Linked DNA regions of Homo sapiens: region 2 is linked to region 1. Evidence: fine-mapped expression QTL. A gene starts in region 1. The other region holds a variant in brackets. All regions are shown on one strand. Distances are between the middles of the regions.

What was found. PIP is the estimated chance that this variant, and not a neighbour inherited with it, causes the effect.
Region 2: its variant is the best candidate, but not a certain one, in a credible set for the expression of SEMA3A in sigmoid colon (GTEx, PIP 0.76).

The regions. Positions count from the first base shown.
Region 1 is chr7:84,191,178-84,199,908 of GRCh38, forward strand. It overlaps SEMA3A (semaphorin 3A), which reads right to left and starts at 3,612. Exons shown (of 17, transcript NM_006080.3): 1 at 3,298-3,612. The coding sequence starts at 3,409. RefSeq lists an enhancer at 3,726-4,533.
Region 2 is chr7:83,949,772-83,958,502 of GRCh38, forward strand. It overlaps SEMA3A (semaphorin 3A), which reads right to left. Exons shown (of 17, transcript NM_006080.3): 17 at 6,006-8,731. Among named protein-coding and RNA genes, the nearest start is that of SEMA3A, 240 kb to the right of the region's middle. The variant A/C (reference allele first, on the strand shown) is at 3,873.

The DNA of each region.
Region 1 (8,731 bases):
AATTTTTATTTAATTGATAACCTCATTCTTATAATAATACCTTGACTCTGAAAAAAAAAAAAAACAACTTTAGAAAATAGAAAAAAGAAAGCTTTCAGAAGGCCTACCACTTTTTAAAGTGCTATTTACTAAGTCCTTCCTATGAAGTTAAGGTTAAAATCATTGATTTAACCTTTGGATTCACAGGATCACCATCACATTGAGACTTGCATGTGTCTTTGATTTCTACCAAAACTGAAGCACATAGTGTCCTGGAATAGCCCCTTACATTGGATGATGGAATATTTGTCATTTGTTTAAAACCCAAACCCTAATTATTTTCTTGTGATTCATGCAGGTTTTTCTGAAGACTTCATTGTATCACATATCCCAAATGGAAGATTATATGATTTTCCTGTATTTCATGAGAAAAGTGAAATTTGACTAGTTTTGTAGAAGAAATAAACATTTATGCATGGACCACTTTTTAAAAGAAGGATTTTACCATTTAGCTATATTACATATATTTAAAGAAGACAAAAGTATTTCTGAGTAAATGTTTCTTAAGGATAATTTCTATGTAACTGCTGAGATTTACAGAGTTCTCACATTTTCTTCCCCCATAAGGATTCTAAATCAAATTGGTTCAGAGGAAAAGCCAGCATACCCCATTTTTCTAATATTATCACTTCTCCAGATGGTCCTGAACACATCTATTCAATTCCTTTTTCCTAGAAAGTAAAGAGGTATCTTATTAGATATGTACACCCGCTACAAAGGCCACTTTCCTGTTTTTACTTCTTTTTAACATGTCAAGTCTCTTTCATCTCCTACCAGGCAAAAATGATAAGTAGAAAGTAAGCACAGTGATTGCCAGAAACTTCATCTTGGCAACCTGAGCAATGAGAGAGTTAATGGTGGATCTTTGAAAACAAGTGACCATGGGAAATTAAGGTTGGCAGGGATTTAACTCTTCATGAATCATGCTGGAATATTTTTAAGGGCAATGCAGTGGATGTTTTAACTGTGTTTGACATCTAATTAAGGAGAAACAAGAAGTAGCTTTAAAAAAATCTCTATTGTACTTTAGAAACAAAGTACTGGCAATTGGCTACCACATACTTGCTTTGGCCAAACAAACGTACATGTAGAGACAAAAAGGTAATGACAGATTAATAAAATAACAGAAAAAAATTTCCTCAGGCCATTCCTTTTATTCTTCTTCCTGTTGTTCATTTCACAGTTTATTTTACCAAATTATTAAGCTCTAGGTGTATCAATGGGATTGTTATGTAGCTGTAAAGCAGTTTTTTACTTAAAGGAAAGCAGAATAATTCTAATGGATGCCATCACTAAAACAAGGCTTATAAAGACAATATCAAATATATACACCTTGCTAATATATACTGCTTGCTTCATCAGATAGGTTTAAGGCATATGTGTACAACAAAGGATATTCAAATTAAATGTAATATTTTTAATGTACAGAAAGAACAAGTGCCTCCTCTATCATGGAGAGTAACCTATTATCATGGAAATAAAATTCTTGCAAAATAAAAAAGTTTAATTCCCTATTTTTATTTTATTTTAAAATGAATTTAGCACTTAGATATATTCAAGCCTAGCAGATTTTTAAAATATATATCATGATTTTAAACTTGTTAAACTAAAAGTATTACAAATAGCCAGTCACATCTTTGAGAACTAAAGTTGCATGTAAAACTTATAGGGAACATAAACTTGGATAAAGTGGACCATCAACTTAGACTTATTTGATGTCACCTTGTCAAGGAGTGAAAACAGAAAGCAAAACTGATAAAAACACAGACACCATAATATCATATACTATGGAAATAATTTAAAGACAGTTACTAAATTAATTAAATAACGCTACATGATTTTTTAAAACTTACATAAGTACAATTGCACTTCTGTTTGTTGATGTTTAAGTCTCTATTCCCAACTTGATACTCAGGAAAACATTACACCAAAAAGTAAATAGATATTCTAATTCAATGCATTTCATTTAACGAGCACTAAGTCCAAAGAAACACATTACTAGGTGTTTAATTTTCTAATTCAAAGTGTGAAAATTACATCTCTCTTCTGATTTGAGATCCTCATTCACACTAGGGCATTCAGAAAAAGATGTTCCCCATCATATGAGAATTAAAGAATATGTTTTGTGGCATAAGAGCAAGGTACAGTAGACAGACATCTCTACAAATACCTTCAATAATTTTTATTTTAACTTATAGGCTAAAAAATAAGCTTAATTAGAGCTTCTCACTGCTCCACCCCCAATTTTAGAAATCTGAGAATCATAAGAAATCAACACCTTAGGGAGTAAAACTACTTGAGTTAAAACAGTTTAATCTTCAACTCCATTTTAATAATACCTGAGTTATAGAAAGATTTACTGCCACTAAATGTATGTATATCATTTTGGGCTCTACTTTAGCATTACTTTACACATCATCTATCTATAAGACCTATCTAAGCAAATGTGGAACAAACATAAAAAATCCTCAATAAAAATAAGCACATACATTAAATTGTAACCAAATAAAGCACTAGTGATAAAGCTCTTTTTTCTCTCTTTAATTTATACTTTTCAAAAGAGAAGTTTACACAACTACCTATGCAAGCAGACAGTAATGTGTCTGCAGTTCTCACTGAAGTACATATAGAATTAAATAACATAATATTTCAAAGACTTTAGCTTTACACAATTAGCCAAATACAGTCTTTTGTACAATCATAAGGCACTGTGGAAAAACTAGTCTGTTCCATCCAGTTTATGTTCTCTTGGCAAACCATGATCTACTGCTTATGTTAAGCATCTGATTGTCAGATTTGAACAAACTGAATATTCATGATGACGATTAACCATTTCATGTCTAAAACTAAGAAAATGCAATTCATCATAGTAATTATAGGTAAGGCATGCACATCTACAAAGAGACCATTTTTGCATTTCTATTTTTAAGAAAATATTTTAATAGAATTAAAGTCGGAAAAATTAACAGGCATAAGATAGGATAATAAGATATACAGATCAGCGTGTACCAGGCATACAGCTCTTTTCAGCAAATGTGATTAAATGTTCTTTGTTTGCATTTAAGTTGTCATATATCAAACAGAAGACATGCTTTTTACAAAAAGCGTTTAAAGCATCTCAGAAAGATACACATAATCACGTCGGTTTACCAGGTTAAACTAAAGGTTTGATGATTTGGGGTTGGGAGGGAGTTCAAGGAATTAAGGGGGGGGGCGGTTATTACAAAGCTAACCAAATAAAAGAAAAATAAGATTTACCTTTGTAGGATAATTTCAGCCTTGGCACATTGTTCTTCCCATTCTGATAGTTTGCTCTTGCTGTAAGTAATACTCCCCAGAAAAGACAGACAATCCTAGTTAACCAGCCCATGCTGCAGACGCTGTAGGTCCCTTTGCTGCTTTAGTCTTCCTTCCTGTATTGTGCGGCCAGAGAAGTTCAAACAATCTGGAAACTGGAGGTAACAGGTGATTTAGGTCAGTTTCATTCATAAATGCAGACAATCAAGACCTCATGGCAACACTAACACCTCTTCTTCTGTAACAGTCACTGAAGCACAGAAACTTCAAACCCTCCAAAAAGAAAAAAAAAAAAAAAAATTCCGAGCCAGGCACCGGATAATGAGGCACAACTGTTGTGTGGAAAGAAAAAAAAAAAAAATTAACAAGGTCTGCTGCAGTGGTGCTTAAGAAGCAGTTCCTTTTATCTAAGCTCCTCTGATAGCCGGTGGCAGTCTCTAATCCTGCTCCCTGCTTCATTCGGCTCCGGGGAAGCAGAATGAAAGGGAAACAGAGAGAGAGAGAGAGAGAAAGAGAGAGAGAGAGAGAGAGAGAGAGAGAAACCGTGAGCAGCGCGGACTTTTCCTGTACGCATGTAGAGGGAGATGACACAAGATCCCACAGACAGGTTTCCCCAACACTCACTAGACTGGCTGACAATGGGAGAACAGGCGAGCTCAACCTACTCCCCTTCCCTCCTGTCACACAACACATGCAAAAAACATCTCGTAGAGATTAGAGCCGGGAGCAGAACCCTCAGGCGTGCCTGTGAAAGGCATGTAGCTATAAATTTACTTCCCAAGGCAAGCGTTGTTTTATAGCCATTTTTGGGTGCAATTTTGATTTTAAAAATCTGAATTCTGCTACCTACAAAATTTACAATTCATGCTCATTATACAATCCTGCTGAACTTGTGCATTGTATGTGTGCGTGTGTGTGTGTGTGTGTGTGTGTGTGTCTATATATCCTCATCAATACAACTTTAACCACTGAAGGTTTTAAAGCCTTGTTAGAGATCATTCCCTCCTCCCAACAAACCCCCTGGGCTCAACCACCCCCTTCCTCTGTCCCACTGCAATTTCAGGGAAGAAATTCCTACTAAAGCCCATTCCAACAATCAGTTCAAGACAAATATAGGTCCTTTGAGAATTATAAATTACAACGGGGGATTCTCAAAAGGATACTCAGAATTTAAAAACGTCTATGGTTTTCCAGCTTCTGGAATGCTCTGGCTAACATTTTCAATGCATCACATCTCATTAATTAAAGACACTTCCCTAGTTTTGGTTTAAAGGGCAGCGGAAGATGACAAAGTTCACAAAAGTCCCTGCTGAGTGTCAAGGAGTAACATGAAAAGAATATCTCTGTGTCTTCATGAGCTGCTGAAGGGTTACTAAATTTTCTGTGGGACGTATAGGCATGTATTCAGGCAGTCATATGAACACCATTAGTTCCTTCTGAAACAAGTAGTTGGCTGTGGCCTCTCAATTTTCTCTCTTATTTTTCATTCAGTTTTCCTCAAAGCTGATATTTTTACAAGAATCTTTAGGGGATGTATAAAAAAGTTAACAGGACAGAACTTTCTCTCCTTTATTCCCCAAATGATTCTGCCCTACCCCCTCCTACCACCACTCCCCACCCCCCACCTCCAGAACAGCACTTGGAATCCAGAGACTCAACTTCAATAGTAGGGAAACTTCTTGGCTGAAGGGAGAGAGTGAGTCTCACAATTAAAAACATAAACACCTACTGAAAGTGGCTTAGTATTCTTAAGAAAATGATCTAAGCATTGTCACTACAGCTTTCATTACTTAATGTCCACAGACCAATAGAGAAAGCACAGCGCTCGCTCGCTCTGCTTTCTCTCTCTCTCTCTCTCTCTCTCTCTCTGTCTCTCCCTCTCTGCCGTTGGATGTGTGGCTTGTGTGAATGTAGGTGGAGAAGGAGGAAGAGGAGGATTTAAAGAGGGGGAGAATGGGGAAAAGGGAGTAGGAATTCTCTCTCTACTTCACTAGATTGACTCATCAAACAGATCTTATTGTATTTGTCAGTTTCCTCAAGCCTATTGATCAGCCAGTATTGTTAAGAAAATAAAATCCAAAAATAATGTTGATTTTACTGATTCCCACACTTGTTATACTAGGCACTTTCACGCTCTAGGCAATGGATTAAGGCTACAAATGACAAGAGGCTTGTCTGTCTTCCATGGATTACTCTCTATAGACATTCATTCTGCAGAGGAATTCATGTCGCTTTGGGATTATTTCAAGGATTGGACTAATGAATTATCCTATTGAAATCTCACATATAATTAGTTTAAATGCTTTAAGTAGTTTTACCATTTTCATTAGTATATATTTTATATGTCTTAAAATATATTTATATTTTTACTCTTGTTTTCTAGAATAGAAGAGCAAGTTTTTGTCAAAACTAAACAGGATAATAAAATTTATAAGTGTATCCATTTCACCTGTGTAATGTCTAATCCTAAAACATTTTTATATGCTCCAAATAAAACAAAAGGCTGTAAGTAAATTTAGATAAAAGAGGGTCAAAAATGGCTCCATGGGGGAAGAAAAACATAAAATCTGGATTTTGAACCACAAAATCAGGACAAAGTTATTTCATTTCATAAAATGAATAATTTAAATTAATGTTGACACATGGAAGTTGGTAGCACAGACACCTCCATATACACACGATTTTTTATAAACTATGATATGATTATTTATATTTGATATTTTTCTTATCCTCCAAATTATTTATGATCTTCCTGTTTTTCCAGATGTTTAAAAGTTTCATAGGTTTGCATTTATATTTGCTTTTCTGCAGATTTTTTATTTAAGAAATGTAAAAATAGTATATTCTTCAGGCAAACTAACTGTCCTAGACTGATTAAATTATAAAATACTAGAAATGTCTGGCCACACACAGATAATTCAAATGTTAAATAAAAAATGAAAGAAGAAAGTAAATGCCTGAAAAACACTCACAAAAGCATTTGGAATATTATATTTCTACTGCCTTCTCATTCGACTTTGCTCAGAGTTGAATAAAATTGTTTAACTTTTTTTTTCTTAATATCCCCAAATACCTGAGGATAATCAAACTTCAACTTATTTCTCAACTAAAGTAGAAGCAAGGTATGGGTGGACCTGGATGGGCGGTGTCAGAATCTATCGGAATCTGGCTGCATGTGTACAATGCAGATTTTAATCCACTCCTCCAAAGATCACTCTTTTTTTTTTTTTTTTTTTTTTTTTTTGAGACGGAGTCTCGCTCCGTCCCCCAGGCTGGAGTGCAGTGGCGCGATCTCGGCTTACTGCAACCTCGGCCTCCCGGGTTCAAGTAATTCTCCCGTCTCAGCCTCCCGAGTAGCTGGGACTACAGGCACACGCCGCCACGCCCAGCTAATTTTTTGTATTTTAGTAGAGACGGAGTTTCACCGTGTTGCCCAGGCTGTTCTCAAACTCCTGAACTCAGGCAATCTGCCGGCCTCCGCCTCCCATAGTGGTAGGATTACAGGCGTGAGCCCCCGAGCCCGGCCAGATCACTCCTTACTCTGAGAATCTGTGGCCTAAATTCTGAAATTAGAAAACTTACTGTATTTGACACCATACACCATAACCATTGATTTTATTTTACTGTATCACTTACTACTTTTTAAAAGTCACAAATATTATATTGGCCTTTTTTTATTTTTTTATTTTATTTTTTGTGGAGACGGAGTTTTGCTCTTGTTGCCCAGGCTGGAGTGCAGTGGCACGATCTCGACTCACCGCAACCTCCACCTCCTGGTTTCAAGTAATTCTCCTGCCTCAGCCTCCCGAGTAGCTGGGATTACAGGCAACTGCCACCACAGCCAGCTAATTGTATTTTTAGTAGAGACAGGGTTTCACCATGTTGGTCAGGCTGGCCAGGTTGGTCTCAAACTCCTGAACTCAAATGATCCACCCACCTCAGCCTCCCAAAGTGCTGGGATTACAGGCATGAGCCACTGTGCCCGGCCTTATATTGGCCTTTTAACATTGAATTTTATTTAAGGTATAAGTGAAATATTCTTATTTATTTCTTCCTCTAAGTAGCCTATTTTCAATTATTTTCTAACCCACAATTTACATAGTGTACTATATGTAACTGTATTTGTAATTGAGTGTCTAATATGTTCTAACAATTCGAGCTTTCAAATATGATTAACTCCTGCCGTGGAGTTACATTTCAGCAGGTGCTTAATAGGATGATCATGCTGTTGTATACTTTTCTGTCAAATAGATCAGTAGTTTTTAACCTCACCTCCCTCTGTACTGGGAAAGAGTGCTAAAATTTTTGACAGTGGCAACTTTCTGGATGGTGTGCTTGATTTTCTAGAGGATCAACACTTCCCATTTCACAACAGGTTAGTTAACTTGTTTTTCAGTAAAGACCTCTGTAGTCATAGAAGATACGTATTAAAGTATTTACACATTGGCTATGTATTTTTTATCTTTTCAGGTATTGGATGAAACCAATGTGTCTAATTTTAAAATGTTCCCTCTCTATATTTTGCTATTATTGAAACAAATTTGGATAATAATAAACACTGTAATTTAAGAGCAGCGCTGTTTCCTAATTTGTGAGATAGCCGTCTAAGTACTTTCCTTGGTTATACATACCCTGAATCTCTCTGTGAATGGTTAGGTAGAAATACTAGCTGTATTTGTCCAGAAAAGAATATAAGGAGAAATTGTGTTTTAGATGTATTTCAAAGATTTAGTGGACAAAATGTACCTGAAGTTAGGATGCACTTGATTAAATAACCTCACCTCTTTCTGCAAATCACCTTCCATACCCATTTCATTGTGATCAGATACAGGAAATCCCCAAAAGTGTGCCACCCTCAGAAGCAGATGACCTCTTTAAAGGAAATTACTAAGTTGGGAATTTTTAAATGAGTTAGTTAATCTGTTCTTCTAAGAAATAACACCAAAGAGGAAACCAGTACTAAAAACACAAATTTTAGTATTCTTGGCAAGGTGTTTTTCAATTGAGACATGTAAAAAACATATTGTTTCTCAATCAACATCTGTTATTTCCGTTTTTTTTTTTCTTCAAGGAACGCTTCATTAGTATTTGAGAAAGGCTTACAATCAACAGAATTTCAGCAAATGTCATACTCAAACATTTGCCTTGCTCTGACTTCTGATGTTGGAAATTCATTTTTAATGAAGGTTTTTCTATACAAGAAATTTGAACCTTTCTTTTTTCTAAAAAAGAATTCTGTGGGTGAAAAAATTCTTTAGACGATCAGAAGACACTCTATTAATTGGAGAAAATAAATAGTTGATGTATTATTCATTCTAGCCAAAAATGATAGTGATTTAGGAACTACTGTAGTTGTTGCTGGAAACCGGGGGTGGCAGGTTAAAAGCAATGTTTA
Region 2 (8,731 bases), 240 kb before region 1:
GGTTTCAGTGCCACCAAAATTTTCTAAGGAAATAGCCTCTGATTACTGTTTTTGCTAAAGTTGCATATTTTAGTTTAAAAGGTCTTTCAGTGGGTAACTTGAGTATTTCTATTTATAGGAAGTATTTAAGTTACTATATTTCCTTCATAGAATACAAATACTATGAAAATTACTGGAAAAAGTTTTTGAGAAATCAAACAACTCTCACTGCCGCCAAACTTCATGAAGCCCAATACTGTAATAATTCAGAAAAATGTGTACTTTCATTACACTGAAAGCCTAAAAGAAATGAGAAGATAACATTATCTATAAAGTAATACCATTACATTGCAATGCACTGACTCTCTGAAGGATGTTGTCAGCTGGATAAAAATATTTCTGTAGTTGAGGTGTTGCATATTCTTTTCTTACCAATTTTTTTTATAAGGGATGCATTACTTTTGAAAAGCTAAATAGGGGCCAGGTGCAGTGGCTCATGCCTATAATCACAACACTTTGGGAGGCCGAGGCCGGCGGATCACTTGAGTGAAGGAGTTAGAGACCAGCCTGGCCAACATGGTGAAACCCCATTTCTACAAAAACTACAAAAATGAGCTGGGCATGTGGTGGCATTGTCTGTAGTTCCAGCTATTCGTGAGGCTGAGATGGGAGGATCACCAGAGCCCGGGGAGGTTGAGGCTGCAGTCAGCCATGATGGCGCCACTGCACTCCAGCCTGGGTGACAGACCCTGTCTCAATAATAATAATAATAGTAATAATAATAAGAAGAAGAACAAGGAGAAGAAGAAGAAAAGCAGAATAGTAGAAATAGTAGGAGTAGAAATTCTCCTACCCCCAATTTACCCTATATCATTGCTGAGTAAATATTACTTAGAACACAAATACTTTCTAATGACTTTCATCACGGCAACTCTGAAATATTTAATATTTTCATCAGCACACTAAGTAATTTTAACCTGATGTTTTAGGGCCCTTACATCTTAGTATCTGATCCTCACCCCTAAGGCCAGCAAACCTTGGAAGCAGGTAAGCCTTCTTAGAACTCAGACAGGAGAAAGCCTGAGTGGAGCCACTGGGCCAGTGAAATCCTGACAAATCATTGGGTAAGAACACTCCAAATTTGTGCCCCTGAAAGAGTGAGATACAAATTTGTATGAATCACTCAATTAAGCAGTGGTTTCCAACCTTTTGGCATCAGGGACTGGTTTTGTGGAAGACAGTTTTTCCACAGACGGGGGTGTTGGGAATGATTTCGGGATGAAACTCTTCCACCTCAGATCATCAGGCATTAGTTAGGTTCCAACAGTGAGCACCCAACCTGGATCCCTGGCATCCACAGTTCTCAGCAGGGTCCATGCTCCTATGAGAATCCAGTGCCACTGCTAATCTGACAGGAGATGGAGCTCAGGTGGTAATGCTGGCTCCTCCATCACTCACCTCCTACTGTGTGGCCCATTCCTAACAGGCCATGGACTGGTACCACACTGTGGCCTGGGAGTTAAAAGCACTGGGCTCAAGCATTGTTGTGCACACAAATCACCTGCGAATTGACTAAAATGTTGATTTTGATTCTGTAGGTCTCGTGTGGGTCTTATGTATCCGTATTTCTCATGAACTCCCAGGTGACAGAAATGTCCATATTCCACACTTTGGTCACATGTTTTGAGTATGCTGGACTTAGTGGATGGTTACCCATGTTAGACAATCTAAAGAGAGATCAATAGCACATAAGATTAGGATCTGCATAAGGATAAAAAAGGAACAAGACAGTAACCCAAGCATTTGCACTGTTAATAAAAGAGATGATATCTTTGTTCTTTTTATGCTGTTACTTCCTTTTAAAATCAATGCATTTTCTTTCCTTGCTTTTTTGAGCCCCTATTCTCTCTTTCAACCCTCCCAGCATTGAGATTTTTCTGGCTCATTATGTCTTCATTTTCTAAAGTTTTTGAGCACTTTCCAATTCAATCTCCTAATATTGTATTAAATATTTTAGCATCATGTGACTAATAAATGAAAGTTGAGTATATAAACTGAACTGTGTTGTATTCAATGAAAGACATTTAAACATAAGACGACTGCTAAGAAGCACTCAGAAATTTAGATATGCCTAGAACTAGATATGTATAAATGGTGCATCTGTACTCAATGCATAAAAGAAATCTTAGTTCAAATTTTATCTGAAAATTATACTCAGTGCTATCTACCATGACTATATTTATACACACTTAGTATAGCCTATTGGGTTTTTTAATTAATTCTCTTTCAAGTTATGGACAGTATAAAATATTTGTGTACAGGCCTTACCCTTTTTCTCCCTTCCAGATTGTCTAAACTCTAATGTATACAATTGTCTTTTCTGGGGGCCAGCCCAAATGGTCTCTTGAAGTTACTATGAACAAAATGATTGTACTTCAAAGCCTGCACTTTTGTTTCATCTTTTTGTGCTGCTTTTTATCAATTTCCAAAATAGTTAAAGCTTAAAGACGACAATACTTCAAACAAAAGCAATTATTTAAAAAAGATTACCAAATAATTGAAGCCAATCAGTGTTCACACATTTGGAACTTTTGGAACTTTTATCCTTTCCTACCAGACCTTGAAGTCCATCAGATTTTGCTGAGGCCTTTATATTAGTGAACATCTGGATCATGTCATAGTTTGGTTTTATTTTTGCCTAACAGTTTCTTTGTGGATTTGCCTCCCACAACACATATGGTTTATTTCTTATGTTTATCCCTAGCTTGGCAGGGTTTTGAGGTGTCACGTCTCTTTTCATCTCTACTTTTTAAAGGGAATGATTTTGCATAAATTATCATCTTTTTAGGTGTGAATTATGGTAGTGGTCTTTTCATGTGTTCTTTAGAGACCATGAATAAATGCCTCTGCTCACATTGTCTTCCTGTGAATTATATATTATTACAATACATAGAATTTTTTCAGCAATATATATTTTTTAAGTTTGATTTTATTTTTGAAAGTTCATCAGCACTTGCAATTGCTTAGACTGTGTCTCAAACCTTTTCATATATGAAAACACGCTTAATATCATATAGTTTATTTCATTGAGTCTATATAAAAATAATCATTTTGTCTTCTGGAAGACATTTTATTAGGTAATGCATAGAAAACTGTCTCCTTTTCGAGCTGGAAAATGCTAACTTTGAAAACTGTATATTAAAAGAATTAAACAGGTGATTACTTAGTAAAAAATAATTGGCCGGGCGCGGTGGCTCACGCCTGTAATCCCAGCACTTTGGGAGGCCGAGGCGGGCAGATCACGAGGTCAGGAGATCGAGACCATCATGGCTAACACGGTGAACCCCCGTCTCTACTAAAAATACAAAAAATTAGCCCGGCGTGGTGGCGGGCACCTGTAGTCCCAGCTACTCGGGAGTCTGAGGCAGGAGAATGGCGCGAACCCGGGAGGCGGAGCTTACAGTAAGCCAAGATCTTGCCACTGCACTCCAGCCTGGGCGACAGAGTGAGACTCCATCTCAAAAAAAAAAAAAAAAAATTGACTAATTTACTCTAAAATGCATTCTTAGAGATCATGATGGCAGACAGTAGCCCCAAAATTTGCAATGAAAAGTTAACATGGTTGGAAATTAAAAGTGCTGATATCTTAATGTAGTGTTTTTTTAGAGAATAAAAAGTCAAACATCTGTTATCTTTGATTAGGAGTCATTTAGAATTTCTTTTGCAAATTTTTATGGGCAAAGGTAAGATGTAGAAAAGTGCTCACATGAAAGACATGGCCAAGGGAGATTATTGCTATTTTGTACAACTACTACTTTAAAATGGGAAGCAAGAGAAATTAATGACAGAAAGTAGAGGGCTAAAGATCTACAGAAGGTGGTAATAGATATAAT[A/C]AAAAACATTTTATTTGGAAATGAGAAAGAACATCATGTTCTCATCATTATCAGGACGGAAATCAAGAAAAGTGAGTAAATAATTAGTGTTAGCAGTAAACATTATATGTCAATGTTAACTATTACCCCAATTCTGTGAATACGTTTTCTATCATTTATCTCATATAGATGGAAGAACTGATATATTAAAATCTTATACAGGGGAGAACTGAGGCCCAGAGAAGTAGAAATAAATCAATACTCAAAGACACCACTAAGTACATGGGTATAGCAGGTATTCAACCCAGGTTTGCAGGTCTCCAAAACCTGTTTTTAACTGTGCTGCTGATTTCCTATTTGATTGTCTCTCCTCTCTTAGTGAAAGAGATGTTCCCTTATTTCTAGGTCAACTCATTCACCATTCTCTTCTTCATTTTCTAAGAGTCTTTGACATCCTTTTTCTCTATTTCCATACAGCATGGCATCTTAAATTATATTTACATTAACTAGTTATCTTTCTGGAAACACAGGTAATCGTAAATCATACTTGAATTAGAACTTTATGTCTATCGCTTTTGATCATGTGAATTGAGCAGTTAGTTATTCAACCACTCTGTACTTCAGTTTCTTTATTGATATAATAAGGATAAAATAGGATTTTTTGAGTTGTTTTAATAATTAAAGTAATACAAATAAAGCACTTGATAAAGAAAACAGTATGTTGTAAACACTTGATATTACTATCATTACTAATATGACTACTACGACTATTACTATATCCATTGTATGACACATCATGTTAAATGTTGTGTTTCCTGTTCTTCAATAGATTGTGAGTTTCTCAAAGTCAAAGGCTAATTCTCACTCACCATAGAAAACTCAAGTACAGTATGTTGTGCCAGATCCTCAGGCTGTGTGTCCTACTTCATATGAAAAGGCCCACGTGATATCATAAAAATATTTAGACTATAATATCTAAAAACACAATTAATATAAAAATACGTAGTGAATATAATATCTAAAAACACAATGAATATAAAAAATGTAACGTTACTAGCACCAGGCAGTAACTTTAGCAGTTTAGGATGTATTAATGCTTCCATACGTCTGCTTATGTTTTTATTTAATATTATATTATTGAATTAAAATTAATACAGTGCAGTGTATTACAAAGAGTTTCTGCTTTGGGCTTATTGATATACATTTTATAAATTATATAAATATTTCCTTCTAGAAGTTCAAGAATATTACTTCTCAATAATGAATATAGAGCTTCCTGATATGACATAATTTTTAGAAACATTGTCTCAGGACCAAGAGGAGATTAGAAGAAGAAGACCAGTATGGTCACAGTTGCAAATTACATTCCAATCTTCACTGAGGGGAAGAGGACATGCTACCTTTTGAATGATAAGTGATTTTGCCATCTAGAGTACTTGTTGATTTTTTGTTTGTTTGTTTTTGTTTTGGATTCTAGAGGGGTCAGGAAGTTAAAGAAGAAACCCAAACAATGTAATGTTTCTAAAGTTAATGACTAATGACTACATAATTGTTTTGATCAAAATAGAATAATCCTGGGATAAGTATTCTCTTATGTTTTGAGTAAATATTTAAAGAATTCAATAAACTCCTTGACAGTATTCTTTTCCATATGGATAACAGATTATTTTTGTGATGCTAATATTCATTGGGTAATAATTCAAACCACTTCTGAAGGCAAATACAATAAAAATAATTTCAACAGGCATGCTATTAGGGTCAAAAGTTCTGCAAGGAAGAAAATGAGCAATGATTCTGAAATTAGTAGATGGCAACAATGCAAATTGGATACTTAGCTAGACCATTATTCATCAGTATCTAAATTTAAATGGAATATATTGAATGGCATACACAGACCCAGACTTAAACTGAGTTTTTCACATTTATCAGCAATTTAAAATACTGCATGAGTAAAATACAAATATTTGAGGGCTAATAAAACTGTCAATCTTTTTTGAAGGATGAAAATCCCTAAAAATTGTGGTGTATTTAAAAAATTCCTGATGTGGCTGTTTGATTTTAGATGAAAACTTTGTCTAAAAATGTTTAAGCTTCTCTGGAATTAGTTATCAACAAAACAAACAAAACATTAAGAACTGAGCTACACAAATGACATGGATATTTTACAAATGTATTTACTTGAGATCTAATGCTTCAGTGAGATTTACAAAGAGAGAAGACGGAAGTTGAGCCTTCACATTACCTGAATTGTGATGACATGAACACATCTATAAAAACTTTTGCTTAGGTCCTATATAAATAAACATTGTATATACAAGTATAGTGTTTAGATTAAAAGAAAGAAAATCCATTCTTTTGTTATATGAGAAAAACATGACAGATTAATACAACGGTGGTGCGGGGTTGACATATTCAAGATGAAGGTGGGTCTCATTTTTTAAAAAACTTTTTTGGTTTGTTTGTTTAAAATAATAGGAGTCTGCCTATCAACTACATGTGCTGACCACACCTGCAGCATTGCTTGGCCATGAATTACTCCATCTAAGGTATGCCTTGAACAAATGCAGACTTCACATTTTAATGCTATCTTTGCTGAAGTCTTGTTTGTGAGCCACCTTGCTTTTTAGCAAGGCAATGTTGGAACTCATTGCTGAGTAGTCTAATGCTAGCTGAGTGAGGTAAGGCTGTAGGTAGGTGAAATGTAACAGAAACTTTCGTTTGAACTGAGAGCATAGGGGAGTGTCTGATGAAGTTAGCTTCCTCTAAATATTTATTTGTAGAATTCAGAGTTTCAGCTGACCTGTGCTGGTTTGAACTAGAGGAGAGATTATGAAATACAGATGAGTTTGAAGACGGTTGTGGGAACACTGTCTAGTGCTATGACTTTAGCTGAGTAAAGATAAATGAGGTGAACATTAAGAAGGAAGGTAAAGAGATTGTGGGGTGGAAGTGTAGGAGGCTGAATGTGTGACATATGACAGTCTGTGCCAAGGATGCGAATGTGGGGTACAAACAGAGGGCAATAAATCAAAACCCAGGAAAAAGCAAATGCACCATTTTGACTCATAGTAGTGGGACATTTAACTTTTCTTTATGAAACCTGTGTTTTATCTGTTTGAATGCTTGTTCTCAGAAAAAGGACTTTTTTTCACACCTCTCCTCCTTTCTCCTTATTTCTTCTACTCAGATTGCCATTTTGTTTCTTCATCTAGGCATATCTGACTGATTCACAGCTGGAAAGTCACTTATTCTCTGAAGCACCCCATGATCTCTCTCCACAAGTTAATTCCTCCTTTTTTTTTTCTTTGATCCATACCGCTCTTATTGTGAGCTTGTATTTGGCAATTGTCATATCGTAACTTGGTTCTTTTCAACAGTGATTTATTGGGCTCCCTCTTTGTGCCAGGCATCATGCTAGACACTGGGGACAGAGATCAATTAGATACAAATCCTGCCCTCAAGGAGCTCACAGTCTAGAAATGGAGATGGAAACATAAACAAATAAATCACACATTGGGGTAGTGTGACAATAAAAGGTATATACAAGGCACAGGTTTAGCATAGAGAAGGTCCCTAGCTTGAACTAGGGATGGGAGGATTAGGAAAGACTTGCTGGATTAGATGATGATAAGTCATCTCGCTCTGTTTCCTTAATTTCATTGTGAGCTCTTTGAGAACAAGGGTTATGTCTTATTCACTTTAGTGTCCTCATCACCTAACATAATACCTAGCACATTGTAGATAGTCAAGATCTATCAGTGGAATTTACTTGAACGTGTAGGAAGCTGGTTCTAAAAGGCAAAGTGTCTAGAGGCCCAGTTTTTTAATATTCAAAATCTTCTTTTTGTTTGGTTTGGTTCCAGCTTTGCCTCTGCCTGTGTGTGCCTGCATGTTTGAAATGATAACAAAGCTGTTTTCCTTGGTTACGTTGATTGCGAAACTGTCCTTACTATATGGGCTGTCACATATGCTGATTTTATTCTCTCTTTCATTTAGATATTTTCTTAATTTATTAACTTGAAAAATTATGTTCATTTAATTAACTAGTTTAAGAAAATTTTTAGAGATCAAACAAACTAATGAGATTTTACAGATTTTTGAAAAATAATGTTTTCTTCTTTATGGAAACATGTATTTGCAAACATTAACATTGACTTCAAATAATTATTACAAATCAAGTTAAAAGTATAGATGTCCTTGGTGTTAGACCAGTTTAACATGTTATTACACGATACGGGGGTGTTGAATCCTATTTAAGTCTGTCTTTGAAACCATGAAACCTGATACAGTTTCATTAAATTGAATGGAAATTGTGTTTTAAAATGAGCTAATAAAACAAAGATTTTAACATATTATACTAGTGGCTCCATATTAATAAAATGCTTGTCTGTGACCTTTAAGATAAGCAATTTCAATAACAGTCATCTGACATCTTTGTGGATCCTGAATAAAACCAAACTGATTATGAAAATGACACATTATAAAAATTTATCCCTACATTTCCTTTTTAGGTATGACATTAAAAAGAACAATACTTAATTTAAAGGGCATAAAAATTCACATCATCACCATAAATATAGAACCCAGTTTACAGATGACTACAATGAAGAAATCTGTTAGCTAATTATGTAGCAACCTGACTCTGGTTCTCAACATTTTATGAGCTTATGTTCCTTAACACCATATGTTATAGGGAACAGTAAAGACATCTGAATTCAAATATTTTGAAGAAATGTGTATTTAGCAAGTGAATACATGCTAAAAGGAATAATTTACAGCAGCAGTTTCATTACATTTTTCTCTCCAGTTTTTCTAGTTCCCATCTGAAATGCAATGATAAGTAAAGATATGGAACATATTTCCTACCTGGCAAAAAACAT